Linked DNA regions of Homo sapiens: region 2 is linked to region 1. Evidence: fine-mapped expression QTL. Tissue or cell type: whole blood. Region 1 holds a variant in brackets; the other region holds the start of a gene. All regions are shown on one strand. Distances are between the middles of the regions.

Region 1 (5,219 bases):
AATGGGTTAACAGTCATCCCCCATTTCTCCCTCCCCACTGGCAACCATTAGTCTGCTTTCTCTATATCTAGATTTAGGCATTTTATATAAATGGGATCATGTAACATGTGGCCTTTTGTGTCTGGCTTCTTTTACTTGGCATAACATTTTCAAGGTTCCTCCATGTTGTAGCATGTATCCATACTGGATTCCTTTTTATTGCCAAATAATATTCCATTGAATGGATATACCTCACATTTTGTTTATTCATTCATTAGTTGATGGACGTTTGAGTTATTTTCACTTTTTGGTTATCAACAATGCTGCTCTGACCATTTGTATACAAGTTTTTGGGTGGATATATGTTTTCAATTCTCTTGGGCATATACCTCGAAATAGAATTAATGGCTTATATAGTAATTCCATGTTTAACTCTTTGAGGAACTGACAGACTTTTCTACAGCAACTGTATCATTTTACTTTCCCACCAGCAACATAGGAAGCTTCCCATTTCTCCACATCTTCACCCACTCTTGTTATTTTCCATGTTGTTGTGTTTTATAGCCATCCTAATAGGTGTGAAGTAGTATTTCATTGTGGTTTTGATTGTATTTCCCTAATGACAAGGATGTTGAGAATCTTTTCATGTGCTTATTAACAATTTTTATATCTTTAGAGAAATGTCTATTCAGATCCTTTGCCTACTTTTTAATTGGGTTGTCTTTTTATTGTTAGTTATAATAGTTCTTTCTATATTCTGGATACTAGTTTCTTATTCAAATATTACTTGCAAATATTTGCTCCCATTATATAGGTTGTCTCTTCACTCTACTGATAGTCCTTTGAAGTATGAAAGTTTTTAATTTTGATGAAGTCCAGTTTATTTTATCTTTGATTGATTGTGTTTTTGGTGTCATATCTGAGAAACCACTGACTAATCGAAGGTTGTGAAGATTTACACCTATGGTTTCTTCTCAGAGTTTTGTGGTTTTAGCTCTTACATTTCAGTTTCTGATCCTTTTTGAGTTAATTTTTGTATATTTGTGAGGTACAGCTCCAACTTCATTCTTTTGCTTGTGGGTATCCAATTGTCCCAGCACTGTTTTTTGAAAAGACTATTCTTGGCTGGGCGCAGTGGCTCATGTCTGTAATCCCAGCACTTTGGGAGGCCAAGGCAGGCGGATCACGAGGTCAGGAGATTGAGACCATCCTGGCTAACACGGTGAAACCCCATCTCTACTAAAAATACAAAAAATTAGCCAGGTGTGGTGATGGGCGCCTGTAGTCCCAGCTACTCGGGAGGCTGAGGCAGGAGAATGGCATGAACCCGGGAGGCGGAGCTTGCAGTGAGCCGAGATCGCGCCACTGCACTCCAGCCTGGGTGGCAGTGAGACTCCGTCTCAAAAAAAAATAAGAAAATGTGAGTACTCAAACATGGTTCTTTTTCAAGATTGTTTAGGTATTCTGGGCCCCTTGCATTTCCATATGAATTTCAGCTTTTCCATTTCTGCAAAAGCAGCAGCTAGGATTTTGATAGGGATTGCACTGAATCTGTAGATTCATTTGTGGAGTATTGCCATCTTAAAATATTAATTCATCTAATCCATGAACATGGGATGTCTTTTCACTTCTTTGATTTCTTTCATTGATGTTTTGTAATTTTCAGTGTATAGGTTTTGCACTTCTTTGCTTAGATTTATTCATTAGAATTTTATCTTTTTAATGCTATTCTAAATGGCATTTTCTTAATCTCATTTTGATTGTTCATTGCTACTATATAGAAATACAACTGATGGCCGGGCACGGTGGCTTACACCTGTAATCCCAACACTTTGGGAGGCCGAGGCGGGTGGATCACTTGAGGTCAGGAGTTCGAGACCAGCCTGACCAACATGGTGAAACCACATCTCTACTAAAAATACAAAATTGGGCAGGCATGGTGGTGGGCGCCTGTAATCCCAGCTACCCAAGAGGCTAAGGCAGGAGAATCACTTGAACCCAGGAGGCAGAGGTGGCAGTGACCCGAGATCGTGCCATTGCACTCCAGCCCGGGCAAAAAGAGCAAAACTCCCTCTCAAAAAAAAAAAAAATACAATTGATGTTTGTGTATTAATCTTATATCCTGAAATTTTGCTGAGTTTATTAGCGCTAATGCTTTTTTTCTTTTTGCAGATTCGATAGGATTTCCTACATATAGGATTGTATCTCCTATGATTAGAGACAGTTTTACTTCCTCCTTTCCAATTTGGATTTTTTTTTCGTTCCTAATTTCTCTGACTTCAACTTTCAATAGGATGTTGAATAGTAGTGGTGAAAGTGAGCATCCTTGTCTTATTCCTGATCTTAGGGGAAAAACTTTCAGTAAAGACTGAATATACACCATTTAGTATAATGTTAGCTGTGGGCTTTCTATATACCCTTCAACATGTGTTTTTATTATGAAAAGATGTTAGATTTTATCAAATGCATTTTCTGTGTTTATTGAGATGATCATGTGGGTTTTGGCCTCTATTTTATTAGTATGGTGTATCACACTGATAGGTTTTTGCGTGTTTAATCAACCTTGCGTTCCTGGAACAAATTCCACTTAATCATGGTGTTGAAAATCAATTTATTTTCAATCATAGTGTATAATCTTTTTTATATGTTGCTGGATTTGGTTTGTGAGTTGCTGAGGATTTTTACATCTGTGTTCATAAGGGATATTGGTCTGTAGTTTTCTTTTAATGTCTTTGGTTTGGTATCAGGGTAATACTGGCCTCATAGAATGAGTTGGGAAGTATTTCTTATTCAATTTTTTTTGGAAAAGCTTGGGAAGGATTGGTATTAATTCTTTTTTGAACATTTGATAGACTTTACCAGTGAAAATGGGGTTTTGGGCTTTTCTTTGTAGGAAGTTTTTTGATTACTAATTCAGTCTTTTTGTTTGTTCCAGATCTGTGTATATTTTCTATTTCTTCTTGGGTTCGTTTCAGTAGTTTGTTTCTAGGAATTTGTCTATTTCATCAAGGTTATCTAATGTATTGGTATACAGTTATTCATAGTATTCCCTTATGTAGTAATCCTTTTTATTCCTATAAGGTCAGTAGTAATACCCCTTCTTATATTCCTGATTTTGGCCGTTTGAGTCTTCTCTTTTATTCCACACCCCCCCCCACACACACACACAC[ACC/C]CAGTCACTTTGGTTCAAAGTTTACTAATTTTGTTGGTTTGTAGTCAGCATTTTTTATCTTAGCATGGCATGGTTCTTCTCACTGCCTTTGTGACTTATTTATTAACTGCAGTATAGTAATACTGTAGCCTCTTGGCTTAGGAAAGCATAGGACCTGAGTCATTTGCCCATTCTCAAATTTCAAACTGCCCCTCTGTCTAATTTTGTCATCTGTAAAATTGGGGATTAAATGAGATCTACTATGCACAGTCAAGCTTCAAGTGGTGGGCAGGTAACTGGGTTCCCTTAGTAGCTGAATGAGTCTCTGCTGGAATCCATCCTCATAAAACATGATCTCAAAATTGGAACCCAGTAAATTTCTGCACGCTTGTCAGGAGCACCTCACCCCAGGACCGAGCACACAGTGAGTTCTCAGATGCTCCACATAAACACAAGAAAAGCAGCTCGTGGCACAGTTACATTTTTTTCTCTTCTGTAAGCCCATATGGTTAGTTGTGAGAACCAAAGAAGGATTCTTTCCTTCCAAAATTATGGGTTATTTTCTTTCCTTATTTCAAAAGCAGTATGTGAGCATTTCATGGGGAAAAAAAATGAAAACTAAGCCCAAAAACCAGAACACCCACAATTGTATCTGTCCAGAGATAAGCAATGTTGACCCTTGGCTTGGGGAATATAAGGAGAAGTCACTTTCAGAATACTGTTCTCTAGATTCTCCTATCCAGACCTCTGGAAAAGGTAGTTATTCCTCTTGTATTTGGGGACACTTTACCCAGAAACAAAGGACATTCATCCTCGAGCGTTGGTTTCCCACCCTGCTGAACATTGGAACTCCTCACGGAGCTTTTTAAAAATACAAATTCCCGGCCAGGCGCAGTGGCTCACACCTGTAATCCCAGCACTTTGGGAGGCCGAGGCAGGCAAATCACGAGGTCAGGAGTTTGAGACCAGCCTGGCCAACATGGTGAAACCCCGTCTCTATTAAAAACACAAAAAATTAGCTGGGCATAGTGGCAGGTGCCTACTATGCCCAGCTACTCGGGAGGCTGAGGCAGGAGAATCGCTTGAACCCAGGAGGCAGAGGTTGCAGTGAGCAGAGATCACACCACTGCACTCCAGCCTGGGTGACAGAGTGAGACTCTGTCTCAAAAATAAATAAATAAACAAACAAACAAACACATTCCCAGAGAGCACCTCAGATCCATTGAATCAGTCTCTGGAGGTGGGGCGCAGGCAGCTGTGATTGGAAGCAGCCTGGTAGGGAGGGGGATGACTCTTGAGTGACTTGCAGATGAAGATACCTAGTCCCAAGCTGGCTGAGGGGCCCAGATAGATCTCCAACTGGGCACTTGACCTCTGAACTCCCAGAGGACAATTCTTACTTTCCCTGCTAAGCCAGGACTGTCTGGTCCCATGCAGTTTGCCTGGTATTGGTCTGAGAGTCCTCGGGGCTGGGTGATTCTGAGCAAGGATCATATGGTGTTGGCCTGGTATCCCCAGGGAAGTGTACCAAGCTCACAGTATGTCGGCACTGATGTTTGGAGGGATTCCAGGAGTCCCAGTAACTGCATAGCTGGATCCATCTTTTAAACACATTATTCCAAACCTACACATCTTGTCTTTTAAAACACTCACAGGAGAAACCATTTCAGTAGAAGTTTCCTGTCTATATTTATATCATAAGCACCAAAGGTAACAAATTCTAGTTATTATCCATGTTGTTTCGTCTCTGTCTATATTTTCCATTTCCAAAAGTGCATTAGTGCCTTGATATTTTTCTCAGAAAATCACACTCTTCCTCTTCTCCTTTTTCCTTTAGAGATATGAATCAGGTTCTTGATGCCTATGAAAATAAGAAGCCATTTTATCTGTACACGGGCCGGGGCCCCTCTTCTGAAGCAATGCATGTAGGTCACCTCATTCCATTTATTTTCACAAAGTAAGTATTGGATCTTATGGCTTTTCTTACTCTCTTAGTGAATTGAGAATGTTGCTTATAAACCATGTTTAGAACTGACAAGATCATGCTAGTTCATTTGCTGAGCAACCAAGATGTCAAGAGTTGGCACTT
Region 2 (5,219 bases), 51 kb after region 1:
CAACAGCCCTCCCCCGACCACACACACACACCCAGAACCCTGCCCTCTCCTTGCAAAGTGCACAGCTAAGGGCCCGCACTCCTCATCTCCCAGGCCTGGCACGATCCCACTGCTGCCCTCACACGGCCTGCCTCAGCTCTCTCAACAAAGGACCCTCCCTGCAAGGAGGTTTTTCTTTTTGAAATAGGGTCTTGCTCTGTCATCCAGGCTGGTGCACAATGGTTCGATCATAGCTCACTGCAGCCTTGACCTCCTGGGCTCAAGCGACCCTCCTGCCTCGGCCTCCTGAGTAGCTAGGACTACAGGCCTGCAGGCATGCGCCACCACATCCTGCCGATTTTTTTTTTTTTTAGAGATGGGGCCTCACTATGTTGCCCAGGCTGGCCTCAAACTCCTGGCTTCAAGCGATCCTCCTGCCTCAGCCTCCCAAAGTGCCTGGATTACAGGCATGAGCCACTGAACCCAGCCTCAAGGAGGTTTCTGAAGCTCAACTATGGAATACCTACTGTTTACCAGGCTACTAGGCCCCTTCCCAAGGACCCCAGGGACTGACAGCTCAGTGCAACCTGCCCCAAGCATAATTTTCAAGGCATGTGCATTCTCTCAATAACAAAGCAAAACAGGTCATGCTTGTCTCCTTATCCGTTTCCATCATTTTCTCACTACTGCCACATGCTGTCAAGGTACTGGATTTCCCTCCCAAACCTCCTCAACCAGGAATGGATGTGCAGGGATTTGTGCTTTACCTCATGAGCCCTCCAGCATCCCAAGGACATCCTGTTCCTAAGGTAAGTGACTACATGTAGGTAGTCCAGTGTAATCACTGTGTCTGCAGGAGGCCTCCAGCCACCTGAGTAGCCCCACAGCCAGCTCCTGCCCTTTTGGGTCTGGGCTTCTCTTGGGGCCCCCATACCACTGCTTTTCTGGCCCATGGGCCACTCTCCCCCATCCGCACACCTGCCTCCCTGAGGCAACCAAGTGGGTCAGAGAGGCTGTCGATATTCAAACCCAGGCCTCCAGACCCCTCGTTCAGGGCCCACCAGCCATCACGAGCCCTGGACTAGGAGTCAGCAGACCTAGGGTTTGGGTCTCTGCTTAACATTCTACTTAGACTCTAAAAGGAAACTAACATGAGCACTGGGGACCCCTGCCCCTAGCACCAGGCTGCACTACTGACAACACCTACCTGTGTGTCCTAGTACCAAATACACAGAACCTTTCGACCTGCACCTCCAGGAGGTAGGTACCCACTGGAATTTGGATAAAAGAACCATGTGACCCTAAACCTGGAAACGTGGCACACGGTGTGGCCTTGCCTGCCTGCAGGCCCTAAAGAAGGAAGCTGGGCCCGGCCTAAGGCTGATCTGACTCCTACAGCGAAGAGAAAGCGCCTGGCCCGTCCCTGCTCCCAGGCTCCAACCTGACAGTCTGGACCTCCAGAGGCGCTGGGGAAGGGCTGGTGGGAAGTCACCGAATGGGACGCTCCACAGGGACCAGGGCAGTCCCTTGCCACTGCGAATGTCAGGGACTCCTGGGGGGCCGAGTCAGACTCGGCTCTCATTCATCCCCGCAGCCCATGGATACCCTGGTGACCCAGAGCCAAGCACCCTCCGACTTCAGCGCCTGAGCGCGGCCCCTACCGAGCCCCTCCGGTCTCGCCCCGTCCGGCCGCCGCTGACGGAGGCGCTGCGATCTGGCCCGACTCCACTCTGCAGCCCAGTCCAGGAACCTCCCTCTCTCCACAACCTTCCGCGGCTCCCGCGACCCGCAGTCCTCGGGAAGGAGCTGTGGCCCGAAGGCCTGCTGCGCCCTTTGCCCATGGCCCCTTTCCCTTTTAAGGTTCCCTGCTCTCCGCCCAAATCCCAGCCTCAGGCTCCGCAGGAAGCGCCCGTGCGCGTCCGACCCCCAGAACCCGGCGGGTTCGGCCAGGAGTCCGGAAGCCCCGGAGGCCACCGCCGCCGCGGGCGCGCAGGCGGGACGGGCAGAGGCTCCCCACGGGCGATTCCCGCTCGCGGAGTTTCGCAACTAGCGGCGTCCCAGTCTGCGGGCCTCGGAACGTCCCGGCGCTCCACGGCCGTTTTCGCGGCAGGGTCCGCACGGCACAGACTAGGGCGCTGAGGTTCTGCGGCGGCGCCGGACTCCGAACCCAGGGTCCGGTTCCCGACCCGGTCCAGACCAGAGCCACCCCGCGTACTCCGGGTGGGGGAGTCCTCGGCTCAACCCCGCCACCCCGCGCGTCCCCTCCCGCCGGACCTGCGCACCCAGCGCGCTCTTTGTCTGAGGCGTCCCCGCGCCCCGCCCGCGCGCCCACCACGTCCCCCGCGCCCCGCCTCCCGCGCACGCCCGGCCAATGAGGCGCGGCGGCGAAGCGCAGTGCCCGGGGTGTTGTCCGCGCCGTGCCCGCCCATTGGCCTCACTCGGCGCCCCCACCCGGGCCCTGCCGGCAGGCACGAGGGGCGGGGCGCGCGGCCCGAGGTGAGGGACCGCGGGCCGGAGGGGATCCAGCGAGTCAGCTGCCGCCGAGGGACCAGCGCGGGTCTAGCTGCTGCCGCCATCCCCACCATCCCTGACCGCGCCTGCCCGGGCTCCGCGCCAGGAGGAGCGGCCAGGCCCAGCCCCGGCACCGCGCGCTCGGGGACCCCGACGGCGCCCAGCCCGGCGAGGGGCCTCAGGGGGAGGACGAGGAGGAAAGGCGGCCTCGCCGGGGACCCGGCCATGGCGCTGGACTTCTTGGCTGGATGCGCGGGGGGTAAGGAGGCGGCGGGCCGGGCCGGGCCGGGGCGAGGCGTCCGGGGAGGGAGGTCGGCCCACCAGCACGCCCTGGCCTCGCGGCTTCCCGCTGGCGGGGGTCGCCGCGTCTGTGAATGGGGACCACAGTTCTCTTGCCTCGGGCGGGTCTCGTGGGCGTAAATTGACTTCAGGCCCGGGCTGTCCGCGAGGGCAGGTGTCTTTATTCTCTCTGGGCACGCTCGGACGGGAGGTCTGGGGCGCCGGGGCAGCACCGTGGCTGAGCGGAGGCCAGGACTGCCGGGAGGATGCCCCACTGCCCCCCGCGCCGAGGTCCCGGGCTCATCTCCTTCCCCTCCCCCATCCCCATCCGTTGCGCACTGGGAGCAGGGTCCCCTCCCCCGGCCGTATATTTCGGGACTGACTCCACCCCGTCCCGCGCAGCCATCCAGCGGGGTTGGGGCTACGGAGCCGACCCCCTACTCGGCTGGCCTTGGAGGGCACTGAACCACTCTGGCGCCGAGTCACGCCTTGGAACGCCGCCCCTTCCTACGCGGTTTTGTGAGCTGTTGGGGGCGGAAGGGGGGTGGTGGGTGGGTCGGGCGAGCCGGTGTGGGGCACCTTCTCCGAGGCGCGGTCGCGGCTCTGGGGTTCCTCCCATGCAGTTGTCCCCGGGAGGGCCCGGGCGGGCGTGCAGTCCAGGCTCTCCCATGCCCCGACCGTGGGCGTCGGGCACGGCACTTCCCTGTTGGGCCTCTGGCTTCTCTGCTTTTACCTTGAGGGTTAATTTATTCACCAGGATTTAGATGTCGGGGGCGGGGGAGGGTGGTTGGCGGCGGGAGTTGCTGAGAGGGCCGGCCGCTTATCCCTGTTTGGTCCCACTTTTCTCCCAGCACCTGCCCTTGTTCACCGCCTCTTCATCTACTTGGATTTGGCTCGAATAAACCCTCAGCTCCCGGCCAGCGCTGAGAGCCCTGGCGGAAGAGTGGGTAGCGGTGGCCTTAAGTATTAAATCTGTGGCGTCGGAGCCTGCTTCTTGGGGGAGAGACTCGTTGAAAAGGGAGTGTGTTGGGGAGGTGTTGTGCGCTGAGGGGAGTTAGAACTTCCCGGTCGGTTACCCAGTGGGAAGCTGCGGGGCACAAAGCCCAGAATTTGCTGCTAATCGCTGGGTGCCCTGGAGACAGAGGGGGCGTGTCCTCTGCGGATTCCATTCTCACCTTCCCCTCCCGCTTCTGATCTCGCTGTTTGCTCCACCCTTGCTCCCCACCCACTATCAGCTCCAGCGGGTGGGGGTGAAGGGCTGTCCCCAGGCCAACACCTCCTTCCAGGCTTTGGGGAGTGGGGATTCTTTCCCCGGATGGGCAGAGTTCCTTCTGCAGTGGCGCTACCGTCCGTGCTGCCCTCCTGGAAACACCGGGGTTTGGGGCAGGAACACTTCACCTGAAAGCAGGCCTGCTTGGCGCCTCCCGGCACATCTGTGGTCTCCTCTGCACGTCGCTCGCGCAGCCTCCTTGCCTGGAATGTCCTTCGCTGCCCATCCTCATAGGCCCACCTGGGAGAGATCATATCCATGCCCCCTGCCCCAGGTTTGTGGGTCAAGGACTGGCACTGTCTGGTGCTGTAGCACTGGGGCACAGGCCACCCCCCTGCCCCCAGGCCCTGCTTTTCGTGCAACCCCCAGGCACATAATGGCCACCCAGCTAAGGCTCTACAAGCGTAAGCCTGAGCCTCCCAGGTGGACAAGGACAGAAGTCACCTGGGGGCTCACTCCTGGTCTCATCGGAGAAACCTAGGCCCAGAGAGGTGGGGGTACTAAAGCAAAGTCACACCACATGCTCCTCTGATGGCCAGGGTGAGCCTGCAGTCCTCTCCTCTCCCCCTTACTCCAGGGTGCTGGGGTGGCCCCTCAGGACAGTGAACTGACTGTGTCCCAGGCTCCAGGTCCCTGGCACAGCTGGGGTCACACTGACAGCCTGCCCAGAGGCACCCCACCTTGGGACCCGTACCCCAGCAGCCCCTGCCTGGCTCCTTCTTGGGGTGCCCCCAACCTACAGGCTCAGGGCAGATAATGCCAGTGCTTCTCCTTGGTGGCTGGGGAGGGGGACTGTCCACCCCCTACTATTCGCCTAGTGTGGGTCACGTGTTTTAACTTCTCAGGGAGGCGGGGCCAGCATCTTGACTGACAGCATCCTTGAGGCCTTGCATGGTGGAAGGTTTGGAATGCCTCCCCCTCTCCCCTACTGGGGGATCAACCCAAATCTTGAGGCCACATAGACACTGGGCTCTGGATGGACAGAAGCAGGCGCAGAGAGAAAAGCTCAGCTAGGGGTGGGAGAACCCGGGAGGAGAGGTAACCCCAAGAGGGAAGGGTGCCTCTTCCACTACCTCTGCTACCAGCCATCCCCAGGACAGTGGTTCCTCCCCACCCCGCCCAGCCCTGAGGACTACTGGTTGGGGATTGCCTCCGGAGCCCAGCTTAGGGAGGACAGTAG

The links. PIP is the estimated chance that this variant, and not a neighbour inherited with it, causes the effect.
Region 2: it holds the start of SLC25A29, and the variant in region 1 is fine-mapped to the expression of SLC25A29 in whole blood (INTERVAL, PIP 0.93).

What each region holds. Positions count from the first base shown.
Region 1 is chr14:100,354,315-100,359,533 of GRCh38, reverse strand. It overlaps WARS1 (tryptophanyl-tRNA synthetase 1), which reads left to right. Exons shown (of 11, transcript NM_004184.4): 5 at 4,968-5,087. Among named protein-coding and RNA genes, the nearest start is that of WARS1, 18 kb to the left of the region's middle. The variant ACC/C (reference allele first, on the strand shown) is at 3,150.
Region 2 is chr14:100,303,729-100,308,947 of GRCh38, reverse strand. It overlaps SLC25A29 (solute carrier family 25 member 29), which reads left to right and starts at 2,504. Exons shown (of 4, transcript NM_001039355.3): 1 at 2,504-2,749. The coding sequence starts at 2,716. MIR345 (microRNA 345) reads right to left here and starts at 1,089; the gene lies at 992-1,089. RefSeq lists enhancers at 1,524-1,693, 1,724-1,793, 3,002-3,568, 3,821-3,880, 3,931-4,010 and silencers at 1,884-1,953, 2,044-2,513, 2,574-2,673.